Homo sapiens: one gene and its partners. The protein of the gene in region 1 purifies or fractionates together with the protein of each later gene. This does not show direct contact. Each region holds a gene or a part of one and is shown in the gene's direction. Other genes may lie near its edges. The genes, in order: KLRC3, ITGB5, PIGM, BACE1, LRRC3, DPY19L4 and TCTN2.

Evidence for each region.
Region 2: the proteins of KLRC3 (region 1) and ITGB5 purify together in Homo sapiens (affinity purification with mass spectrometry; one large-scale study listed by BioGRID and IntAct). This does not show direct contact.
Region 3: the proteins of KLRC3 (region 1) and PIGM purify together in Homo sapiens (affinity purification with mass spectrometry; one large-scale study listed by BioGRID and IntAct). This does not show direct contact.
Region 4: the proteins of KLRC3 (region 1) and BACE1 purify together in Homo sapiens (affinity purification with mass spectrometry; one large-scale study listed by BioGRID and IntAct). This does not show direct contact.
Region 5: the proteins of KLRC3 (region 1) and LRRC3 purify together in Homo sapiens (affinity purification with mass spectrometry; one large-scale study listed by BioGRID and IntAct). This does not show direct contact.
Region 6: the proteins of KLRC3 (region 1) and DPY19L4 purify together in Homo sapiens (affinity purification with mass spectrometry; one large-scale study listed by BioGRID and IntAct). This does not show direct contact.
Region 7: the proteins of KLRC3 (region 1) and TCTN2 purify together in Homo sapiens (affinity purification with mass spectrometry; one large-scale study listed by BioGRID and IntAct). This does not show direct contact.

Annotation. Positions count from the first base shown.
Region 1 is NC_000012.12:10,417,796-10,421,864, reverse strand, and holds the start of KLRC3 (NKG2-E type II integral membrane protein), read left to right. Parts: upstream 1-1,269; 5' UTR 1,270-1,314; coding exon 1,315-1,501; intron 1,502-1,900; coding exon 1,901-1,999; intron 2,000-2,776; coding exon 2,777-2,821; intron 2,822-3,366; coding exon 3,367-3,521; intron 3,522-4,069. UniProt on the Homo sapiens protein: Plays a role as a receptor for the recognition of MHC class I HLA-E molecules by NK cells and some cytotoxic T-cells.
Region 2 is NC_000003.12:124,880,866-124,884,365, reverse strand, and holds part of ITGB5 (integrin beta-5 isoform a precursor), read left to right. Parts: intron 1-2,505; exon of another isoform or gene 2,506-2,523; intron 2,524-3,500.
Region 3 is NC_000001.11:160,024,453-160,028,467, reverse strand, and holds the end of PIGM (GPI alpha-1,4-mannosyltransferase I, catalytic subunit), read left to right. Parts: 3' UTR 1-3,515; downstream 3,516-4,015.
Region 4 is NC_000011.10:117,295,757-117,299,256, reverse strand, and holds part of BACE1 (beta-secretase 1 isoform A preproprotein), read left to right. Parts: intron 1-2,295; coding exon 2,296-2,384; intron 2,385-3,500. UniProt on the Homo sapiens protein: Responsible for the proteolytic processing of the amyloid precursor protein (APP).
Region 5 is NC_000021.9:44,459,419-44,462,696, forward strand, and holds the end of LRRC3 (leucine-rich repeat-containing protein 3 precursor), read left to right. Parts: 3' UTR 1-2,778; downstream 2,779-3,278.
Region 6 is NC_000008.11:94,740,400-94,743,899, forward strand, and holds part of DPY19L4 (probable C-mannosyltransferase DPY19L4), read left to right. Parts: intron 1-3,500. UniProt on the Homo sapiens protein: Probable C-mannosyltransferase that mediates C-mannosylation of tryptophan residues on target proteins.
Region 7 is NC_000012.12:123,695,113-123,698,612, forward strand, and holds part of TCTN2 (tectonic-2 isoform 1 precursor), read left to right. Parts: intron 1-107; coding exon 108-185; intron 186-1,302; coding exon 1,303-1,383; intron 1,384-1,974; coding exon 1,975-2,086; intron 2,087-3,500.

The DNA of each region.
Region 1 (4,069 bases):
CTCAATCACACACCTAGATTTCATGAAAGCAGTTTTAATTTTTAATAAAAGTAAGGATGAAATCATTTCCATAAAATGCAAATCTGACCTTAATTATAAACAATTGGAAGACTTAAAACAATTGAACCAAACATTGCAAAAAAGATGTACCACACTGACATGAGACGCCTAATTAATGAGTTATTTTAACACACTCTAATGCAAATCAGAAATAATAAAATGGCAATTGTGTTAAAAATAGTTGAAATATCTATTATGTATTCAGTGCTAATATGTGCCAGGTTGTGTGTTTAGTTTTCTACATACATTATACTTTATAAATTATTTTTCCCAATGTAGATTAGTAAACTAGGTTAGTAGACACTAAGTAATTTAGTACAGGTCACATATTACAACTTGCAAAGCTAGAATTAATTGTAGTCTCACTGACTACAGAGCTCATTGACTAGATTATTAAATTACATTATCTGAACTATTACAATTACTTATACAACCAAAGCGACCCTCACTGACTTATACAATCATAGGAGCTTTCTGAAAGTTTGATTGGACACTATTCTTCCATAGACGGCCCACACGTTTATTTATCATTTTAAGTTTTCCTATTTTAGTCATTAAATCAATTACCAATTTCTTGTGTAAAAGCAGCAATTTAAAAATATATTATGTTTTCAATAGTATTTATGCATACAGTAATGTAATGTTTTACAAGATATATTTTTAAAATTTTAATGATTTTTCTGATTTCCTAATTTAGAAAAATAATCAGTTGACAATACCTCAGGTCCTTTTAATAAATGAATGTAACTCACTAACAATGTATGTTAGTATAAGAAGTTACTCTGTATGCTGACAGAACTATTTTATCTTATGGCACACAATCATTAACCATCAATGACTCTTAAAACTATGGTAAAATTAGTGTATTTCTAAATACAGTATTTTAATTGTTAAAGTATGCAGTCTATTGGTGTTAAACATTTTTGAAGAATCTAACCTTAATTTAATACCAATTTTTTTCATGAACTTCCTAGTTCTCACAAGTTTAATGTTTTTATTGTTCCCACTAGTAATATTATGTCAAATACAGAATACATCTAAAAAATGGCCAATTATATCGTGTGATTTTTGTTTAAAGCTTTAGGAAATTAGTAGCAGAATTTTACCTAGGTTAACAGCAAAGTAAACATTATTACTCAGCCCCAACACATGCACATTGCCTATACCAGGGATCCTGTCAAAATATACACCATTTATAGCTTCTTAAGTGCAGTTATCATAGAGCACAGTCCCTCACATCACACAGCTGCAGAGATGAGTAAACAAAGAGGAACCTTCTCAGAAGTGAGTCTGGCCCAGGACCCAAAGTGGCAGCAAAGGAAACCTAAAGGCAATAAAAGCTCCATTTCAGGAACCGAACAGGAAATATTCCAAGTAGAATTAAACCTTCAAAATGCTTCTCTGAATCATCAAGGGATTGATAAAATATATGACTGCCAAGGTAAAACATTAAATATATCTTCAATGTTATTGTTCTGGGATGTGCAGTTGAATGCAGAAGGGTGAGGAAAGATTAGGGAATATTTTACACTTGTGAGAATCAGAGTTCATAAATGGGATCTAATATTCTAATATGAAATCAGAAGACTAATTTTATTCAGGCATTGTTCAACTGTAATCAACTGTAATCTGCAATCCACTCATGGAACATTACATTTACTGAAAATGAAATGGTATATTCTGAGAGAAAGATTACTAGAGTAGATGTAGATTTAGCGGCCAGAGTTTATCATTATGTTTCCCTGTGCATGTGGGTTCTCTAGTATGTAATTCTCTAGTATGTAATCCTAATCAACTCTCTATCTCCCCTCTCTCAGTGCCTCTATTTCTCTCCCTGCAGGTTTACTGCCACCTCCAGAAAAGCTCACTGCCGAGGTCCTAGGAATCATTTGCATTGTCCTGATGGCCACTGTGTTAAAAACAATAGTTCTTATTCCTTGTAAGCATATTCTTGAAAGATTAGAAGGGAACGTTTTACTTTAATGCTTGGAAGTGCCTCAAAATATTTCATACTGTTGAAGAATAGAACTCTTATTTTACTGTTTCTTTCAAAGATCTATTACTTCATTTATTTTTATAGAAAAAGTTAATTTTATTAAAGATTGTCCCCATTTTAAATAACACACAAAGTTTCAAAGTAAGAAACTAAACTCATTATGGTTTATCTAAATATTACTTTTTATAAAAATCATTTTAATTTTTCTATTACAGTCCTGGAGCAGAACAATTCTTCCCCAAATACAAGAACCCAGAAAAGTACATTTTTATTTTCAAAGTTCTGATATTAGTACAATTTGGAACCAAAATAATATGGTTATTCTGAATTTTTCACAACATAAATAACAAAATCATTGTAGAGAACATGTGTTTATTTTTTGTGTGTAATCTATATATATGTATATACATACACACACAAAGATATTTTCTGATTTCATAATTCAAAGGCATGCTATAGAAGAAAAGTATTTAGAAAAACTAATTTTTGAAAGTGGTTACATCAAATACTACAAGAGATGGTGAAGTTTTGTGCTAAAGTCTTTAAAAATGTTTATTTCAAAGGTCTATTACTTTATATATTTTTATAGAAAAAGTTAATTTTATTAAAGATTCTCCCCATTTTAAATAACACACAAAGTTTCAAAGTAAGAAACTAAACTCATTATGGTTTATCTAGATATCAGTTTTTATAAAAATCATTTTAATTTTTCTATTACAGTCCTGGAGCAGAACAATTCTTCCCCGAATGCAAGAACCCAGAAAGGTACATTTTTATTTTCAATGCTCTGATATTAGTACAATTTATATTTTGTGTCTGTTTTAAGGCATGTAAAAGAATAGTGGCATTTTTGCAGAAAATAAGCCATAAATTCAGCCATAAATATTTATAAAGAAAGATTATGAGGCAGCATTTCCTTTTCTCCAGTAAGTAGAAATACTCACTTAAAATCATTCTACCCTCTTTCTCCCAATTAACAGAAGTCTCCTACTGCTGTGAGATGATACCAAATAAATAATTTTACTATTCTAAAAAAGCAGTTGTGTATCAGTGAGGTTCAAGACATGTGTGGAGTGTATTTTTGTTTGTTGGTTTGCTTTATATGGGAACACAATTAGGGGAGAGAGGCTAACCCTTTTCTGTGTATGTGTGTATGACTGACTCAGTTATTAAAAAATATATACTTATAAGCCTGTAAGGATGCATAAATATGTTAAGCACATATATGTTTATACTGTTGCAAATATGTGAACTAATTTTCATTTTTAAAAATTCATATTGGTCTAGATAGTAATTCATATCTTTATTAGCACGTCATTGTGGCCATTGTCCTGAGGAGTGGATTACATATTCCAACAGTTGTTATTACATTGGTAAGGAAAGAAGAACTTGGGAAGAGAGTTTGCAGGCCTGTGCTTCAAAGAACTCTTCTAGTCTGCTTTGTATAGATAATGAAGAAGAAATGGTAAGATGTAAATGTTTCAAACATTTTATGAAAAGCTTCTTTCAGTGAATAATACATTTGTAGAAAACATCCATATGTGTGTACATATATTTAGCTTATATATTTTCAAGTGTATGCATTATTCAGTTGATTGACTTAATAATGTTTTTAAAGTTATATACCGCTAATGTACTTTTATTTTCAGTTTTTGCTTTTTATGGAAAACCATGCTTCTATTAATGCTTTGAATCCACAATAAATTTTACTATTTAATTTTATTGAGCATGATATGATCTAGTCATGCAGATTGATCACAAAGTGAATGATCTCATGTGATACAAGTGAGATCATGAAATAAGTTTCCAGCTCTAGCAGTTCCACCCCTGTGTATGCCCTCATCACTTATCCTGACTCCTCTCCAAAACACTGTCTTGACTTTTGAAGTTATAAATAAGGTTTGCCTGTTCTTGAATTTATAAAAAACGGAATTATACAGTGTGAATTTCATGTCTGTCTTTTTCACTCCTATCTGATATTTGTGGAATTCCTCCATATTATTGCGGTTATCT
Region 2 (3,500 bases), on another chromosome or scaffold:
ATGGCACTGGCCTCCAGAACTTGCTGCTTACCTCTTAGGGCCCTGAAGCTTCTCAGGATTAGCAGAGGTTGACTCACATCTGTGTCATTTCTCCTAGTTTTTCAGTGTTGCTGAATTAACTTCAACATTCTTTTTTTTTTTCTTTTTTTTTTTTGCTTCCCTTCCCTTCTTTGTTTTCTTGAAGCACTACAGGTACTTTATTCAGGGAGTGTTTCTGTCTTGCCACTAGGAACATTATTTGAAAGAAAAAAACCTAGTTACTCAGAGAAAAGAAAGAGATGACCCTCAGGGCCATGCCTGCCTGGGTGTTCCTGGACCAGTGGTTGAGTGCCTCTCTCTGTTGCTCTAACCCCACTTTCATCTCAGTACGGATTTCCAGCAGGAAACTGACCTTAGGTTTCAGGGGCTCATTTCAAACAAGTCCCTGGCCGGCTGACAACCCCCTCCCGTCCCCACCAAGGGCTATCTCCTGCTCTTTTTATTATCTTATGGCCAAGAGCCTTCAGACAGAATCCTAGGATGTGGTCTTCCCACAAAACCAGGGGTCTCACTGAGGTGAGGCTTTTCCACGCTGCCTTTGCTAAGACAGAGAGAGGAACACCGTCTTATAAAGAGGATCCTGCAACACCGCTGGAATTATGTGTGCTATCACATTCATTTCTTTTTAAAAAAGCAATCGAATGTTCTTCTAGTGAATGCTCTGCACATCCTAAGAAAGCCCTTTGTTTTATTTAGTGGACTCATGTTGGCAGCACCCTTCCTCTACCCCCAACCCCCTACCACATTTCCTGTGGTCTGTGATGGGGTTGTTGGAATTTGGCTGGGTCTGCAGCTCTCTGTAGGTAACCAGGCACAGGTTTAGAGCTGACAGGACAATGAAATACAAACAGTGGGTTTGGTCTGTAGACTGCTGTTTATCCTATGGATTTACATTTTAACTCCATCATCCTTGAGTTGGGGGAGCTTTTTATAAAGGGGATTGAGGCAGAAGAGGGCAGGGTCTAATTAGCTCTAATTAGTATTCCCCGCCTGCTTGTTCTCCATGCTTATTTAGCTACTGAGGCAACGGGGAATTAAAATATCTAAGTAGTTTGGCAAAAGGCCTTTTGTGCCTGCGTGGCCTGGTAACTACTTTTTCTTATTCAGCCTGGCCATGGAAATATTCTGAGATGCTTTAACGATATCAGTAATGTGGGACAATTACAAACTACTTAAATAATAGGGCCCCTTTCACATGGCAGTGTGCAGCTGGGTTAATGGGATAGGGTCTCTTTTCACAGGTATTTCCAGTTGGCTGGAGCCGAGGGCCTTGGAGAACTGACTGCCGTGGTTTGTTTTCCTTCTTTCCGGTTCGAATGGGATTAATGGCCTCTATAAATGTAAAGGAATGCTTTATTTAGAGGCACCCATTTGTTTCTGAGGCTTCTTGCTTCCGTTGAATGCAGGGTTTACTTCCCGGGCCTCATGGTGAAAAGTTTGCTCTAAGACAGGCTTGACTCATCCCCTAAGGCTGATGCTTTGAAGGCACTGCGGGGTACCCTGCCCTCTCTTTATAGGATTCCCTCCCCAACTCCAGCCAGACATTTTCAGAGCTGGTTGTCTCTTGTAGAGCTGGGACCTACTTCTGCAACTTGTTCTCTTTAGTTATTCTCAACTGTCCCTCAGAGTGATCCTGAGATCCAACTCAAGTCAGATCATATCTCTCTGCTTAAAACCTTCGAATGGTTTCCCAGAGTCCTGCCAGGCTCCACGAACTCTCCACCTACTTCTCTGACTTTCCTTCACCACTTTCCCTTCGATCCTTTGCTCCAGCAGCATGGGCCTCCCACTGTCCCTTCAGCGTGCCAGCCATGCTCCCATGGCAGCCCTTCTCCCTGCCTGGAATACTGTCCTCCAAGATATCTGCATGACCGGCTTCCTCCACCCTGCAACCCTTTTTCTAGCATCTCCTGCTCAGCCAAGTTTTCCCTGGCCGCTCCCAGCTAAAGCTGCAACCTCCTCCCTATATCCCGAGTTCTTTTTATCTGCTTTTCTTCTTTAATTTTTGTCCTTAGCACTCACCACCATCTAATGTAACTACATATCTTCTTCACTATTTCCCCTAAGTAGAATTCTCCCCCAGCCAGGATGTGAGCTCCGTGAATAAGGGAGTCTTGTTGGTTTTATTCATCTCTGTATCCTCCATGCCTACAACAGCACCAGGCACATATTTGTTGAATGAATAATGGATGAACCTGAATCTTGGTAATTGGGAGGTGAAGAGGGCGATGCATCCCGTCCTCAACTCCCTGTTGCCTTCCACAGCTAGCTTTGAAGTCAGGGACTATGCATGCGGCTTGTTAGGAAGAAACATCCTGGGAGAAAGAGATTCTGTTGGAATGTGTCAGGATTTTTTTTTTAATTGGAGTCTCACTCTGTTGCCCAGGCTGGAGTGCAGTGGTGCAATCTCTGGTCACCGCAACCTCTGCCTCCCAGGTTCAAGCGATTCTCCTGCCTCAGCCTCCCGAGTAGCTGGGATTACAGGCGTACACCACCGCACCTGGCTTATTTTTTAATTTTTAGTAGAGATGGGGTTTCACCATGTTGGCCAGGCTGGTCTTGAACTCCTGACCTCAGGTGATCTGCCCACCTTGGCCTCCCAAAGTGCTGGGATTACAGGCATGAGCCACCACTCCTGGCTTTGTGTTAGGATTTTTTGAGCTGGTATGGAGGCCATTTGGTCTACTCCCTGAGTTGTTTGCATGAGGAAGCTGAGGCCTGGAAAGGTTAAGTGACTTGCCCTAGGTCACATAACCAATAAGTGACAGAACAAGTCCTCTGATCTTTTATACCCAGTATATCCTGTTCTCCTTCCCTACATCCCTGGGTGGAGCAGAACTATCTCCTCCTCCTCCTGCTTTCATGGCCCATTCCATTAGAGAGACTGGGGGCTGCAGCTGGTCTGTCTCACCTGCTACCTGGTTAATAGCCCTGGTCTTATTTACCTGTGTCCCTGACACAGCCACAATGCTTGGTACTCAGATGATCCCTTCTCTCACCCCAGGATTTTAATGGGCTTAGAAAAACTTTATTTAAAAGATTTGGCCAGGCAGGGTGGCTCACACCTATCATCCCAGCACTTTGGGAGGCCGAGGCAGGCAGATTACCTGAGGTCAGGAGTTCGAGACCACCCTGGCCAACATGGCAAAATCCAGTCTCTACTAAAAATACAAAAATTAGCCAGGCATGGTGGTGTGCACCTGTAATCCCAGCTACTCAGGAGGCTGAGGCAGGAGGATCGCTTGAACTTTGGAGGCCGAGGTTGCAGTGAGCTGAGATCACACCACCGTACTCTAGCCTGGGAGACAGAGACTCTGTCTCAAACAAACAAACAAACAAACAAACTTTTACATATGTACTTTTTCTTTTCTTTTTCCCTTTCTTTTTTATTTTATTTTGAGATGGAGTCTCACTCTGTTGCCCAGGCTGGAGTACAGTGGTGTGATCTTGACTCACTGCAA
Region 3 (4,015 bases), on another chromosome or scaffold:
TTTGGGGTAAAAATAGCAGAGTCAGTTGCTGAGGACAATGACCTTCCTTATAACATTTAGTTTCATACCCATATTAGGTCTTGTCTTGAGGACCCTTTATATGTGCTTGTTTACTAGTGGCCTTCCAGCCATAGCATTCTTACCTTTTTTTCCTATTCTAAGAATTAAAAAAAAAAATTATAGAGCCAGCAAGGGAGGAGGCAGGAAACAGAAATCGAATTTCATCATTCCAGTATAGTTGTCCCTTTTTTTGTATTTCTGACTTGGTTTTATAATTATATTTACTTACTAATTATTGTTTTTTAACATTCTTTATTGTGGCTTACTCTTCATACTTAGAATTGAAATTGTTGGACATCACATGTATATTCACATTATAAATACATCATTCTTCCACTGTTAGACCTTTAGATTGCTTCCAGTTTTTAATATTCTAAATAAGACTTTCAACATTTTCTGTGTTTTAGCTCATTCTCTTAGGACATTCTTAGAAGTTAGAAACATTTCTGCTGGGATCGTTGGAGGGAACTTCAAACTTTGGAATCTTTCCTGCAAGAAATTCTTTACCAAAGAAAGGCAGGTGTTTCTTAAAGGGATGCAAAAGATATTTTGCACTTTGTATGTTCCAAAACATTTAGTAAGTTAACTAAAAAAATGAGTTAATTTGGTTTCTTGGGGGATTTTAATTTTTTAATTTGTTTTCTGGTTATGTAAAAAAAATGTTTTTTTTTTGCTTCTTATCACAATCCTTTTGTTTCCTTTTTAATCCTTTAATAACACCTTCAAATTTTATAAGACTTTGGCTTATTTCCTATATAATTCTTTTTTTCTTATACCACCTCTTAAGATTGATATGTTCATTTGCAGGTAAGCATTAATTATTAGATAAAGAGGGATGATTCTCAAGATTGTGTGTGTTCTGAACAGAGGGAACTACATGACATTTTCTTCTGTAATTGCCTTTGTAACGTCTTTAGAATGTGGTTCCTAAATATTCCTGGATAAATTCTCTTGATAGGCCCATTGGAAAGGCTAATACTCCCACCCAGTGCTTTGTTCCTTCCTGGCAAAAGAATTCCTAAAACCACTGATTTTAGTTACTGACTTCTCACCATCTGGACTCTTACAAGATGTTTCAGAAGTTGTGTAGAACTTGTCTTTCAGTTGACTTGTGGCTGAATTTACTGTTACTTCTCTAATATCAGTTGTTTTCTGCATTACCACCCTCTCCCCTAACCATCTGTACTATGAATGGAAAAGGAAAAAGATGGAAAAATTATACCTAGGATTGTCCCTAAATGCAACCTCTTGGTTCCCCCCACCCCTCATGTTTTATTATAAACGATTTTAAGAGCTGGGCATGGTGGTTCATGCCTATAATCCCAATGCTTTGGGAAGCTGAGGCAGGAGGATCACTTGAGGACAGGAGTTTGAGACCAGCCTGGACAACATAGTGAGACCCCCATCTGTACAAAAAAAAAAGTGCTACTTGGGAAGCTGAAGTGGGAGGACCACTTGAGCCCAGGAATTCGAGGAGGTTATAGTGAACTATGATTGTGCCACTGCACTCCAGCCTGGGTGACAGAGCAACACCTTGCCTCTAAAACAAACAGCTCCAACTATTTTATTTTTTTATTTTTCTGAGACAAGATGTTGCTTTGTCACCCAGGCTGGAGTGCAGTAGTATAAACATGGCTCACTGCAGCCGAACTCCCAGGCTCAAGTGATCCTTCCTCCTCAGCCTCCCAAGTAGCTGGGACCACAGGTATTTGCCACCATGCCTGGCTAATCTTTATTTTTTGTAGAGACGAGGTCTTGCTATGTTGCAAGAGGGAGATCACTTAAGTGATCTTCCCTCATTGGCTTCCCAAAGTGTTGGGATTCCAGGCGTGAGCCACTGCACCCCGCCTGACCTAACTATTTTAAACACTACTCATATTGCCATCATCTAAATTCAACAACAATTTGCCATATTTGCTTTATGTATATGTATAATTATATATTTATAAAATTTTTTGAACCATGTGAAGTTGCAAACATCATTGAACTTCACCACTAAATATATCAGCATGCATCTCCTAAAAATCAGGTATTTTCTTACAAAACCATAATTCTGCTATCTATTATGATTTAACATTCTGTCATTTTCAAATTTCTTCAGGTGTTTTTTGTTACATCTTAAAGAACAGACGTTCTTGGATCTCAAAGATTCCGAGGAAGGAAAGAACATGGTGGATAATCCATAATTAAGAAGTTTGAATCTTTTCCTAGTCTTAAAAACAAAGTGAGAACTAAAGGGGTTTACCTTCCATCAAAGTTGAACAAATTAATTCTTTTGTGTGTCATACTTTCTGTCTCTCTCCCTAAAAACATGGGGGTGGTAATCTCTTTGTTTTATCTGGTAGGTTTTCCAGATAAAAGATTATACAGGTTTGGAATCTTAATATCCAACCCCCAACTCCAAGCCCTGCCCCAACAACAACAGCTAATTATTTTACATCTTGATGATGGTAAATTTTTCATGATTAACCAATTTTGGGCACCTATTCCGCCATATATGGTTTTATTTAATTTTCACAGCAACACTTCAAAGTTGATATTCATATTCTAAATTTATAGATGAACGAAGAGGCTCAAAGATTAAACAACTTGCTAATAAGTGATTTTTACCCATGCTTTTTCCATTATATTATGTTTTGGATTTTTCCAGAGTACCCAAACCCAGCAGATGCATACTGCTCCAAAATAAATGGAACTCAATACTGGCTCTGTCAAGTGTCTCTTGCCAATCAATTGTCCTTCTAATCTTTTGAGGGGCAGTTCTCTCAGTTGTACCAAGTCACTGTCATCCCCAAACTTTTCAATGATTCCAGGCCTTTAACAACTCCCCTCCACCTCCAAACCCTCTCTCACCAAATTGTGTAATTTCTTTGTTTACTGCTGGCTTCATCATGCACTTTTCCTTCATAGCCTATTTTAAGAAGTTGATTTGCTGAACTGCTTTTTAGCCAAGCTATTTGTAAATCAAGCTACACAAAGTATGTGGCCATAATTTCCAAAAGGCAAATGATCATTGTTCAATTGCTGTTGCTCTGCAGTGTGCATTCATGCAGTTAAAAATTGTACTGCATTGATAGTACGGCATCAGAGAATAGATCACTTAGGTTCAAATCCCAGTGCATGATCCTGAGCAAGATTATCATATCTAGATACATTAGTTTTTATCTGTGAAATGGGAATGATAGCACAATCTTCATAGAATTGTTGGTAAGGATTAAGTGAGTTGATATGCTCAAAGTGTGCATGCTGGCATAGAACAAGTCACTGTTTACAAGCCTTTAAAGAAGGAGCTGTTCTGGCACTGTAAACTTGAACCTTTTTTCCCCAAATCTAATGGATATAGGCAAGGAAATTATATTTATATAAAATAAATGTTTGACTACCTTTGATCATAAACTTTATTCTCATCTTGACCTGTTCCTTTGAAAAGATAATAAATACTGATATGTGAAAAATGTATGGACAGATTATTCAGATGTCTGGTTGAGGCTTTACAGTTTTGTATATTTCTGTCAGACATTAAGCTGACTCTAAGCAGTGGAGGTTTGGTTTATGCCCCTAAATTACACAGCACTTCTTTTCTCCATTGTATCGAGGGGTCATTCAGGGGTTGCTGTTCTGGAGATGGAAGCACATGTCTCCTGCCTGGGTCAGAAGCGTCACAATAGCACAAGCATTTATTCAGCACTGGCCTAGGAGAACCATTCATTTAGTCAAAACAAGCATTTATATTCATTATCCTGAACAAAAACCAGACTAAATGAGAACATTTATAGCTGCTCAGGCACTCTGCTAATTGCTATGTCTGCTAGACAAAGTGAAATGACACTTACAGTGACTATTTAAAAATAATTTGGAGCATGAATATTTGAAGCTCAGTTCTTTTTACAAAGGAAATGTATAACCTTTGCTCTTCATTTTTTTTGGCAGTTATTTATAGATCCAGGCCCTGTGT
Region 4 (3,500 bases), on another chromosome or scaffold:
AGATGCAACTTACAAATTACCATTTTTCTGAGGGTGGGGCCTTTCCTTTTTTTGCCTGTGAGGATATAGTAGACTTTCAAAAAATGGCTCTGGTCTGACTGAAGGTGGGGTCAGGCCATCAAAGGAGGAAGAAAGGGCCAAGGAGAAGTGATGCTAGAGGCCGGGCATGGTAGCTCACGCCTCAGCACTTTGGGAGGCCGAGGCAGGTGGATCACCTGAGGTCAGGAGTTCGAGACCAGCCTGGCCAACGTGGTGAAACCTCGTCTCTACTAAAAATACAAAAATTAGCCCTGCGTGGTAGCGCACACTTGTAATCCCAGCTACTCAGGAGACTGAGACAGGAGAATCACTTGAACCCAGGAGGCGGAGATGGCAGTGAGCCGAGATCGCGCCATTGCACTCCAGCCTGGGTAACAAGAGCGAAACTCCATCTCAAAAAAAAGAAGTGATGCTAGAAAGAGCTGGACAGAAGGGAACACCAAGACACCTGTCCATCTTCACTTAGCCAAATCCAGGGCCCTGACAAGATGGGTTTTCACCAGGACATTTTATGGGGCTCCTGGCTCCCCACTATTTCTGACAGTAGGATTCCTAGGTCTGTGTCACCTGTGAGACAGAAGGGGAGCCACATTCTGGTGGCAGGGACAGAACCACACGCATGGACACTGATGTGCCATCCTGGTCCCCACAGGTCCCCTGACCAGTACAGCTCCTAGAATAGGTCTTCTCTGAGCTGGAGGGGATAAGCCAGACTGCTTCCTGGGAGAATTGAAAAGGAGCAGGGGGCCCTGAAGACAGAATCAGTCAGGTACACAGTGAGCAGGGGTGATGTGACGGTAGAGAGACATGGGAACAGAGACAGCACACACACCACATAGCTCTGAGATGACGCACAAAATGTTATGACTCCATAGACTGAAGCAGACACAGCGTTTCTTTTCTTTTCTTTTTTTTTTTGAGACGGAGTGTTGCTCTCGTCCAGGCCGGAGTGCAGTGGTGTAATTTCGGCTCACTGCAACCTCCGCCTCCTGGGTTCAAGTGATTCTCCTGCCTCAGCCTCCCAAGTAGCTGGGATTATAGGCGTGCGTCACCACACCCGGCTAATCTTTGTATTTTTAGTAGAGATGGGATTTTACTACATTCACCAGGCTGGTCTTGAACTCCTGACCTCAAGTGATCCACCCGCCTTAGCCTCTCAAAGTGTTGGGATTACAGTTGTGAGCCACTGTGCTGGCCTCAGACACAGCATTTCTAAGGCCATGTTGAGGGTGCCAAAGGAAACCAAGATATTTTACCCCAGAATATACTACTTTGACGTATTTTGAGTCGGCTGTCAGAGGGCCAGCACACAGAAGTGGCCCTGCAAATCTGGCTTTTGAGGGAGATTTGCATCTGCAGAGAATCTGCATTGATGCAACCTGGCTTTCTCTGAGGCCCTCCCTGGTCCAAATCTAGGAAAGATTAACTGAAAGTCTGACATGTTTAAAGGTCTGAAAGACACATACATCACCTGTTTTCTCTGAGGGGTGTTACCTATGAGGTTTCATTCATATAAAAAGACCACTTTTACTGGCCTGGCCTCCGTTTATCCCTCCCATAACTATTTTTGCCAAAGTCCAAGTCCCTTTTTTTTTTGTTGTTGAGACAGGGTCTCTGTCGCCCAGGCTGGAGTGCAGTGGCATGGTCTCAGTTCACTGCAACCTCCACCTCCCAGGGTCAAGTGAGTCTCATGCCTCAGCCTCCTGAGTAGCTGGGACTACAGGCATGTGCCACCATGTCCAGCTAATTTTTGTATTTTTAGTAGAGACAGAGTTTCGTCCTGTTGGCCAGGCTGGTCTCAAACTCCTCACCTCAGGTGATCCACCTGCCTCAGCCTCCCATAGTGCTGGGATTACAGGGGTAAGCCACTGCACCTTGCCCAAGCTCCCATTCTTTCTGTAACCTCAAGATGGTATAAAATCATCAACCATCTGGCTATCTCTTTGACTTCCTATATTTTTTTGACTCCCTTGCATATTAGTTCTTCTACTAATCTGCCTTTTTTCAGTTGGTTTTTCAGCAGACCTGCAGAGGGCACAGGGGAAGTGTTCCTTTGGCCCCTGCAGCACCACAGGACCCCAGGTCCTGTCTGTGGTCGTGGTGGTAACGGGTGCCAGCCTGGACCAGTCCTGCATCGTGGAGCTTCACTCTGGACATTCTAAGGGGCAGACTGTGGCTGGGGCGTGAGGGATAATAAAGGTGGTGTGACCGAAGCCTCCTGTCTATACTGTCTTTTCTCTCCCCTTTCTCTGACAGCTCAACATCCTGGTGGATACAGGCAGCAGTAACTTTGCAGTGGGTGCTGCCCCCCACCCCTTCCTGCATCGCTACTACCAGAGGCAGCTGTGAGTCCTGGGGAGAGCCCGGGGGAAGTACCTTTTCCAAGGATCCAGGGCTAAGAAGGGTCAGGGGAGGGGTACAGAGAGAAAGAGTTGATCCTCAGATTTTCTTCTTGCCAGGGAAGGGGAAGGGCGAAAAAAAGACAGTGACCAGGAGAGACAGGGTGAAGTGGGTGGTGAGAGGAGCTATACCATGGGAAAGGGTGAATTGAGAGGTAGCCAGGAAGTGCTTCAGTGCTGAGACAGGGCAGCCTCCTGTGGGAGGGAAAGGAAGAAGAGCCCATAGCTCACAGAACAATCTTAGGGGGCCCATTTTCTCTGCCTGAATGGGGAGACGAAAACCCCACATCCCCTCGGTGTCTCTCAGTTCTCTAACACCAGCTAAGTCTAAGCTGAACAGGCCTCAGTGACGGCTCCCCTTGCTGTGTTCTTACCCAGGGGCCACTCTAGGTGGCTTTGCATAGTCCAAGGACATGAAGGAAAGGGTCTTTCATAAACCCCTCTGCCTAGACCAGTATCAGAACTGAAAGCTGAAATATCTCCTCCATGCACCACCCAGGGTGCCACCAGTTGGATTCAGCTTACTGGTGAAAGGGGGGTTGAAGAGGACTGGTGAAAGTGGGGGACTGGTGAAAGGGGGGTTGAAGTGGGCTTTAAGATAAGAGGCAGTGAGGGGTAATCTGGAAGCCCCCTTAGCATAAAAGCAGGAAGAAGAAGGGATGAGAGGACACCAATATCTGAGACATCAGTGTGTGCAAACGTGAGTAGAGGCTTAAATCCTATCCTTGGACTTGTAGGCAGCTGCAAAACGCACCTTCCCTGTTTCCTCTAATGTCCCAATCTAAAAGAAGCAGTCAGGGAGGAGGGTGCAGGTAGGATCGATGAAAGGGCATTCACTCCAGTTCCTCGTTCCAGTTCCATCACTGCCCCCACCACACACAGAAGCCCTGGTTAGTGGTGTGATTAAACACAGGTGGGGCTGCCACATGTTGAGCACGTTTCACAGAAGTGGTGTGTAATACCAACCTGCTTTTCTGAGATGCTTGAACAAACCCCTTCTCTAGAACTTGCTGTAGAGGTTCCACATTCACCCTGCCTGGCACTTTCTCTACCACTCGGATG
Region 5 (3,278 bases), on another chromosome or scaffold:
GATGCAGGTAGGGCAGGTGAACTGTTGCTGGCCTGGCCAGCAGGCCTAGGGTCACATGGTGATTGGCGTCCTCCTGCCACCCCTTCTCCATGCCAGGGTGCCTGTGGTGGGTTTGCCCAGCACGCATGACCCCAGGTCCCAAGGAGAGTGTGAACTGAGGCCTGGGTGGTGAAGGCAGGGCCTCTCCTCAGCCCTGTGTCCTGTGGGTGCCAGCCAGTCCCATCTCGCATTTTGGGGTGCCCTTTCCCTGCTGCCAGGGGACTCTTCATTTGTCCTTACCCTAGAATCAGCCCAGACACTGGACATCACCCAGACGTGGCCCTTCAGGAGGTGCACAGGGCAGGGGCAGGCCCGTCCCTCCCTGCCCCAATTTGCTGGGCTGCCTCAGCCCAGGGTCTGGCCTTCTCCTTGGTGAAGGTCTGCTGGGCCCCTGTCCACCTCCTGCTGGGAGGAGGAGATGGGGAGAGGACCAGGAGGACACCGGAGGCCCTGTCCCCTGCACTGTGAGCTCAGTCAGGTCCATGAGCTGCCCACCGTCCTGGCCTTACTGTGCCCCCTGCCCCACCAACATAGGTGAAAGCACCTCCCCTCTAAGGAAGACCATAGAGACCCCAACACTGTGGGACCCCAAAGCTCCTTCATGCTCACTGGAGCTCCCACCGTGGGTGCTTGCAAGTCCTCAGCGCTCCCGGGGTACAGCCCTCCCCTTCCTGCCCTCTAATGTCCTCCCCTCCCTTGCCCTTCCCTCCACTTCCTTTCTCTGCCGTCCCCTCCTCTCCCATCTTGTGACCTCTTTACTGGCGGGGCCTGGAGCCCATGATGGACACTTGCGGAAGGAGGGGTGGCGGAGCACCCCTGAGATGACATCGCTGCCTGCCCCAGAGCACCCCGCCTCTCCCTGTGACTCAGTTCTTTGCAGCCCAGATGTGAGCATGTGCACCCTGGGACCTGCTGCCCGTTGGGATGCCCAGGCCAAATCAGCCCCTCTGCCTCCATGCTGCACTGATTGCAAGAGTTTCCCACATCTGCAGAGGCCGTGGGCTCAGCCCCACACCAGCCAGGCCACCAGTGTTGATAGCGGTGAGGCGGGGACAAAGGGAATGTCTCAGTTCACAGTGTGGACATGGTGGAGGTCTCGGCCTTGCGAGACAAGGCAGGGGGAGGGGATAGGAAATTGGGGGTATTCTGTGACTCCTGGGCCACCGGGGAGCCAGAATCTTCCAGCCAGACTGGATGGGCAGGGCTTAGCTTCCTGATGCCGCCCATTCACCACTTTCACCCCGGGAACCTACCTGGGCATCATGGGAGGCAGAGCCTGAACCCCAACCCAACCCTAACTCTAATGCTAACCCCTAAACCATCCCCCACCCTAACCCAATCCTCGCCCTAACCCTAATGCTAACCCCTGACCCGACCCAATCCTAACCCTGATGCTAACCCCTGACTCAACTCTCACCCTAACCCTGATGCTAACCCCTGACCCAATCCTCACCCTAACCCTGATACTAACCCTTAACCTAACCCAACCCAGCCCTAACTCCAACTCTAAAGCTAACTCCTAACCCTAGGAGAGGAGCCCAGGCCGGGCCCTCTCCCTGCTGGTTTCCTGTTGGGCTTTGGAGCCCCAGATGCCTGCCCAGAGGCTTCCTTGTGCGGGGTGGGGTCCAGCAGTGGGGGATGGGCCCAGAGCTGGTATAGCCACCAGCAGAGCCATCCTGATCCACAGGACCATCCCTGGTGGGGTGGGGCCCCCTGGGGCAGGAAGGCCACTGAGGCCAGGGAGACTCCCAGGCCCACTCACGGCGCAGGCCCCACAGGAGCTGGCTGGAGGCTATGGGTGCGGGGCGTGGGCCTGCCGGGGGTTGCGTGACAGGCAGTGGGGAGTGGGTTGTGCTGGCAGCTGTGGGTGAGTGAGGAGGCTCCTCTCATGAAGGGCCCTGGGGAAGTGGAATCTGGCCCTGAGAGACCCCCGGCCTCCTCTGCAGGGGCTGCTGGCAGGAGGGGAACCGGGGACCACCTCCCGCCACAGAGCCTGGGGCCCCCAGCCTTGCCTACAGGGAGGGTAGATGAGAGTGTAAACTGCATATGAGGTTGGGCTAAACCTGGACATGTGTTTCATAACCAAAGCAGCCAGGAATCTCCGGCTCTGCCCAGTGATCATCTGGGCAGGACATGGGGACGAGTGTCCAGGCTGAAGTCAGGGCCCGGCCAGCAGAGGGCCATTTTGTATTGAGCTCCACAGCTGGTCACATTCTGTGGAATGTGCAGACGTGCACGGCCCATCAGACAGGGTCTGGAGTGGGGCTGCCGTCTTGGGCAGCTCCTCCCGGGTGTCTGCAAAATGCAGAGGTCACCAGAGCCAAGGCAGCAAGGCAAGGAGCCCGGCTTCTAAGGAACTCTGAGCAGGTGTGGTCCATGGCTGGGAGGCAGCTGGCCCCACAGCACATAGCACGGAGGGCGGCGCGGAGTCCTGGACGCTCTTGGCAGGTCCCCTCATGGAGGATGTGGGGGATTGGCTTAGGCCTGGTCTGGCTGGCCTTCCTGGACCGCAGTGGCCAGGAGCTGAAAACCGTGACCCCAGTCTCCCTGCAGCTGTTCTTGATGGGATTTCTGTTCGCCAGTCAGATGCATTTGCACAGGACTTGGATCCTGAACTGTGTAACCTGGAGAGGCAGGTGTGAGCGGGCCATGCTGCTGGCCCAGCCTGTGCCGGTGTCTGTTTCTGTTGTCTCTCGGCCCTTCTGTGAGCCCTCAGTAAAGCTCTTCGTGCTTCAGTCAGCAAGTGTGGATTCTGTCGTCGGCAACTCTGCGGCCCAAACCCCGAGCCTCCCCCTCCCCCAGACCTTGCAGTGCCATGGAGCTGAGGGACCTGTGGATCCACAGCTGTGGCCCCGGAAGGGCTGCAGGAGCTGAACCTGCGTGAGCCCCGCAGAGGGTGCAGAGCCGGCTTGTGCAGGCTCCCAGCAGGCTCATGACAGCGCGGATGGTTAAATGTAGCTCCTGACAGCCAACTGTTAAGGTTTCAGGCATTTTTGCACCAGGTGACATGATGGTAGCCTGAACGTGACCTTGGCAGCAGTCTCTACATCAAGGAAACTGGCAAATGTCAACATGCTGGGTACCCTCGCTCCTGCCGCCGCAGGCTGTCAGTGTCTTCCAGCCCACACTGCGGGGGGCCTTGTTGTGTGGCTGCCTCCCAGGCTGGGGCGAGGGTCTCCAGAGACCACCATCGTGCAGGCTCTTGGTCAATAGCAGGGTGTGGTGCTCCTGCCAGGGGA
Region 6 (3,500 bases), on another chromosome or scaffold:
TTTACCAAAATCAGGTCTATTTACAATACTGTTTTGGTTTTGTTTTGGTTTTGTTTTTGTTTTTCATTTTTTTGAGACGGAGTCTTGCCCTGTCACCTAGGCTGGAGTGCAGTGGTGCGATCTCGGCTCACTGCAAGCTCCACCTCCCAGGTTCACACCATTCTCCTGCCTCAGCCTCGGGAGTAGCTGGGACTACAGGCGCCCGCCACCAAACCCGGCTAATTTTTTTGTATTTTTAGTAGAGACAGAGTTTCACTATCTTGGTCAGGATGGTCTCAATCTCCTGACCTCGTGATCCACCCACCTTGGCCTCCCAAAGTGTTGGGATTACAGGTGTGAGCCACTGCGCCCGGCTGCAATACTGTTTTTTTTATGCTGCTTTCTCTATTCAACTGTCACTGCCTTTCCATTTCTATAACTTTTTATCTTATCTAATACCCAGACCTTATTACAGTTTCCCTGGTTGACCCTAAAATACTCTATATAGCTGATTTATCCAAATCAGGATTTAATCCAGGACTCCATAGTGCATCTGGTTGTTATGTTCCTTAATACTCTGTAAATCTAACATAGTCCCCCTTTTTATGTTGAAGAGACTAAGTCTTGTTGCATCCTGTGGTGTCATTTAGCTTTTACCTTTATCTCCTGTGTTTCTGTAATCTGAAAGTTATGTGTAAAGGCTTGATGGGTTCAAAATAAACAGTTCTGGTTGAAATATATGGTAGATTATATATTTTTCATGTTCCATGACAGTAGAAATTATAGTTAATTGATCAACCCCTAGTGAAGCTGAGATTGACTACTGGTTTGGGGGAATGGCAGTCAGATCTCTCCATTGAATAGTTATGTTTTTCTCTAATAACTGGAGAATAATCTGTGTGGCGTTTTTTAGCACCAAATGAATGTCCTTTTTACCATTAAGCATTTACCTAACAGTTGTAACACCAGTTTGTAACCTTTGCCTTAAAGTAGTAATTTTATTAGGTTTTATAAAATTATATTTTTCTATTTTCATTAGCTACATTCTTCATTCTTCAAAAGTAGAATTTTTCCTCATTAACCAGGGCTTTTTGGTTACCTTCAAGTCACTATTAGAAAGTGAAGACAAATGCTTAATTTCAATTTACCAATTTCTAAATAAGAGATTAATTTAATAGCTTTCTCAGTGACAAAAACCTTTGATTCTGGTGTTCTCTTTTCTAAGCATCTTTCTGTACTTATGGATTTTTATTGATTCAGTGATTCATTTTAATTGATTTCATTGATTCAGAACATTTTGATCAATGTTCTTCTGTTGCTCAAATTGTCACACCCTTGGTTAATAGGAGTACCTTTCAGGCCGGCTCCTGAGTTCTTTTGACACAACTTTGTTAATCTTTGAAAGCTTTCTTGTTTTCTGGCTCAACAAGGTGAGTAGGTTTGCACTTTTGCTGCAGAAGATTTGTAAATAGCCATTTCTCATTGGCGCTTTGGTTCCTTTTAGTATAGAATGGAATTAGAAAATCCAGTCTGGCAACTAGGAGGACAAGATGATTTTTTGTTATGTCAGAAAGTGCCTGTTACAGGACATTTTGAGTTGCTGTGTACTTTTCTAAAATTCTATTAGGATTTATTTTTAGAAAGACAGAAAGTTATAATAATACTCATAGACTAGGTTTAGAAAATCTTATATTTTATGGCCGGGTGCGGTGGCTCACGCCTGTAATCCCAGCACTTTGGGAGGCTGAGGCAGGTGGATCACGAAGTCAGGAGATAGAGACCATCCTGGCTAACACGGTGAAACGCCATCTCTACTAAAAATACAAAAAATTAGCCAAGTGTGGTGGCGGGCGCCTGTAGTCCCAGCTACTCGGGAGGCTGAGGCAGGAGAATGGCGTGAACCCAGGAGGCAGAGCTTGCAGCGAGCTGAGATCTCGCCACTGCACTCCAGCCTGGGCGACAGAGCGAGACTCCGTCTCAAAAAAAAAGAAAGTCTTATATTTTACTTATTTTTTTTTTTTACTTTCTTTTTGAGACAGAGTCTTACTCTGTTGCTTAGGCTGGAGTGCAATGGCACGATCTTGGCTCACTGTAACCTCTGGCTCATGGATGCAAGTGATTCTCCCACCTCAGCCTCCCCAGTAGCTGGGACCACAGGCACATGCCACCATGCCTGGCTAATTTTTTTTTTTTTTTTTGAGATGGAGTCTTTCTCTGTTGCCCAGGCTGGAGTGCAGTGGCGCGATCTTGGCTCACTGCAACCTCTGCCTCCCAGGTTCAAGCAATTTTCTTGCCTCAGCCTCCCGAGTAGCTGGGATTACAGGCACATGCCACAATGCCCAGCTAATTTTTTTGTATTTTTAGTAGAGATGGGGTTTCACCATATTGGCCAGGCTGGTCTTGAATTGACCTCAAGTGATCCACCCACCTCAGCCTCCCAAAGTGCTGGGATTATAGGTGTGAGCCACCGCGCCCGGCCAATGCCTGGCTGATTTTTATATTTTTTGGTAGAGTTGTGGTTTCACCATGTTGCCTAGGGTGGTCTCAAACTCCTGACCTCAGGTGACCCGCCTGCCTTGGCTTCCCAAAGTGCTGAGCTTACAGGCATGAGCCACCATGCCCCACCAAAAGTCTTTTATTTTATTTTATTTATTTATTTATTTTTTGAGATGTAGTCTTGCTCTTGTCGCCCAGGCTAGAGTGTAATGGCACAATCTCGGCTCACTGCAACCTCTGCCTCCCGCATTCAAGTGAGTCTCCTGCCTCAGCCTCCTGAGTAGCTGGGATTACAGGTGCCCACCACCACACCCAGCTAATTTTTGTATTTTTAATAGAGGTGGGGGTTTTGCCATGTTGGCCCAGGCTGTTCTTGAACTCCTGACCTCAAGTGATCCACCCGCCTCGGCCTCCCAAAGTGCTGGGATTACAGGCGTGAGCCACTGTGTCTAGCCAATTCTTGTATTTTAAAGTGAAGTGGGGTCAGGTGTAGTGGCTCACACCTATAATTCTAGCACTTTGGGAGGCCCAGGTAGGAGGATCACTTGAGACCTGGAGTTTGAGACCGGTCTGGGCAACATAGTGAGACCTCATCATCTCTACTTAAAAAAAAAAAAAAAATAGCCAGGCTTGGTGGTGTGTGCCTGCAATCCCAGCTACTCAGGAAGCTGAGGCAGGAGGATCACTTAAGCCTGAGGCTGCAGTGAGCTATTGACTGTGCCATACACTCCAGCCTGGGTGACAGAGAGAGACCCTGTCTCAAAAATAAATGAATGAATGAAGTTGTATTTAATACAAATGATTATTGTATTATTTAAAATATAGACTTTCTAAAAGGATTGCTTTCTTGGCTGCGTGCAGTGGCTCACGCCTGTAATCCCAACACTTAGGGAGGCTGAGGCGGGTGGATCACTTGAGGTCAGGAGATCAAGACTAGCCTTGCCAACATGGTGAAACCCCATCTCCTCTAAAAATACAAAAATTAGCCAGATGTGGTGGCAGGTGCTTATAGTCCCAGCTACTCA
Region 7 (3,500 bases), about 110 Mb from region 1:
AGTACACTTTGTATGACAAAATGCAATTTTAAGGTAAACACTATGGAGAATAATTTCTTTTCCTAGTGAAATGGTGCACATTATATTTTATTTTGTTTTATTTCTAGGGATAATGACACAGAGATTTGTAGTAAAATTTTTAAGCTATAATAGTGGTAATGAAGAAGAATTATCTGGAAATCCAGGTAAGATGAGTATATGCCAGTCATTGATCTTACAAACATACTTTAGTTCAACACTCCCAGCCATCAGGATGGTTATAAGTAACTCTCTCCAATTTAGTTTCTGACTCTGACCTTTTTCTTTATTTTCTCTTTTTCTTTTTTTGAGACGGAGTCTTGCTCTGTTGCCTAGTCTGGAGTGCAGTGGCGCAATCTCGGCTCACTGCAACCTGCACCTCCTGGGTTCAAGAGATTTTCTTGCCTCAGCCTCCTGAGTAGCTGGGATTACAGGTGCACACCACCATGCCTGGCTTTTTTTTTTTTTTTTTAATCACACAACACAGGAAGTTTTATTCATCTGCTACTTCTCCAAAGAGAGGCTTGCAGGGTTGCTCACTTTAATATAATTTTTATATTTTTAGTAGAGATAGGCTGTTGTTCACCGTGTTGGCCAGGCTGGTCTTGAATTCCTGACCTCAAGTGATCCCCTGGCCTTAGCCTCCCAAAGTGTTGTGATTACAGGCATGAGCCACTGCCCCAGCCTCTTTATTCTCTGTTGTGGCACTGTATTCATTTTTTTTTTTTTTGAGACGGAGTTTAACTCTTGTCACCCAGGCTGGAGTGCAATGGCACGATTTGGGCTCACTGCAACCTCCACCTTCCAGGTTCAAGCAATTCTCCTGCCTCAGCCTCCCAAGTAGCTGGGATTACAGGTGCCCACCAACACCCTCAGCAAATTTTTGTACTTTTAGTAGAGATGAGGTTTTGCCATATTGGCCATACTGGTCTCGAACTCCTGACCTCAGGTGATCCACCCACCTCGGCCTCCCAAAGTGCTAGGATTACAGGCGTGAGCCACTACGCCTGGCCGACATGGTATTCTTTTTGTGATAACAATGTATTTTTTTTTTTTACATAGTCTGTTGTACATAGTAACAAGTTGCTGTAAATGTGAAGCATTCTTTCTCTTTAGCTACTGTTTTTTTTGAGACCCGAAGTTGCCATCTTTCTCTCAAGGGTATTTTCGAAAGCTTCGCCTATGTGTTTTCTTTCCTTGTGCATGACTCTTGTATTATTTGCAGAGTTAGGGCTTGCTATGCTGGAGGAAACAGGCTCACGTTCCTTTGTTGTGTTTGTCTAGGTTACCAACTTGGCAAGCCTGTCCGAGCTCTAAATATCAACAGGATGAATAATGTCACGACTTTACATCTTTGGCAATCGGGTAATCCGGTTTGGTCATTATGATTAGCCCTTTGGCAAATTGGTGTTAGAAGTATTACCATATTTTGAATCTAATCAAGCAATCAATTATTTTAAAGCCTAGTTGGTTTATTTAGCAGAGAGGTACATGCTGCTGAATAACAGTGATGATGGTTTTTCCTGCTTCTACAGCTTTTTAAAAAGGAATGCTAACATTGTTTGCACCTGAAGTGCTGGTTGCTAGTAGAAAAGATTGAAATATGAGATTGGCTTGAGAGTCCCATGTTATTGTTGCCTGTAGCCCAGGATGGTGCTAATTGGAGACATGAAAATAACTTCGTTCTGAACTGCAGGAAATCTGTGCTTCAGTGGTAATTACGCACACCTGCCAGAGGCAGTGTCACTTCTGAAGAAACCACCGCTCAGGATCTGAGAAGTCTGATAAAGGCACCTTTGTTCAGCTTTGAAAGGATTAGACTAACAGTGATCTCAGTTTTTGAAAACTGGCAACTTTATTTCTACTTACTGTTTTCTGTTTTTCACGGAAAACTGAAGTTAATCTTTACTTTTGTTTAGCAAAAAGTAGCAAGAGGATAATCTTTTTCTTTTATAGCTGGAAGGGGTCTGTGTACATCAGCAACTTTCAAACCCATTTTATTTGGAGAAAATGTACTCTCTGGATGCCTGTTAGAAGTCGGGATTAATGAAAATTGTACTCAGCTCAGGTGAGTGTTTCATTGATGAATATATCGGCAATGTGAATGGTTTGCCTAGAATTAATTCACTACATGAATATCAAAGACAGCATGAATATGAAAAATTAGAGTCAATTAAAATGTGTAAAAGTGATAATAAATACAGACATGTAATACAATTTAGAGTTGATTCAAACATCAATATGAGGGAAAATAAACTTTTTCTTGGGACTAAAGCCAGTTCATCCACATTTAAGCAAATTTCATCCACATTTAAACAAATGTCTCTGCCAAAGTTTGTTCAGCTCATTGGAACCTTTTTTGTTGTTGTTGTGTGGTTTTTTTTGTTGAGATGAAGTCTCACTTTGTCACCTAGGCTGGAGTGCAGTGGTGCGATCTCGGCTCATTGCAGCTTCTGCCTCTCCGGTTCAAGCAATTCTCCTGCCTTAGCCTCCCTAGCAGCTGGGATTACAGGCATGCACCACCACGCCTGCTGATTTTTTTTGTATTTTTAGTAGAGATGGGGTTTCACAATGTTGGTCTCAAACTCCTAACCTCAAGTGACCTTGCCCACCTTGGCCTCCCAAAGTGCTGGGATTATAGGCGTAAGCCACCGCGCCTGGCCTCATTGGAACCTTATACTCCTAGAGCTATGAAAAAGGCCAGAGCAAAGTGTAACTGGGGTGATTAACTTTTTTTTTTTTTTTTTTGAGACAGGGTCTCACTGTGTTTCCCAGGCTCGGGTGCAGTGGTGCAATCATGGCTTACTGCAGCCCCAACCTCCCCAGGCTCAGGTGGTCCTCCACCTGCCTTGGCTTCCTAAAGTGCTGGGATTACAGGCATGAGTCACTCTGCTGGCCTATGTTCTGTTTTTGTTTTTGTTTTTGTTTTGAGACAGAGTTTCACTCTTGTTGCCCAGGCTGGAGTGCAATGGCATAATCTCAGCTCACTGCAGCCTCTGCCTCCCAGGTTCAAGTGATTCTCCTGCCTCAGCCTCCTGAGTAGCTGGGATTACAGGCATGTGCCACCTCACCTGGCTAATTTTGTATTTTTAGTAGAGATGGGGTTTCTCCATGTTAGTCAGGCTGGTCTTGAACTCCTGACCTCAGGTGATCTGCCCTCCTCAGCCTCCTAAAGTGCTGGGATTACAGGTGTGAGCCACTGTGCCCAGCCTTGTTTTTTGTTTTTTTGTTTTTGTTTTTTTTTTTGACAGTAGCCATCCTAATAGATACTAAGTGGTATCTCATTGTGGTTTTGATTGCATGCGTTCTTTTTGGCTTGTTTTTTGAGACAAGGTCTCACTCCATCACCCAGACTGGAGCGCAGTGGTGTGATCACGGCTCGTTGCAGCCTGACCCTCTTGAGCTCAGGTGATCCTCCCACTTCACCCTCCCGAGTATCTTGGAGTACAGGTGTGTGCCTGGCTGATTTTTCGTATTTTTTG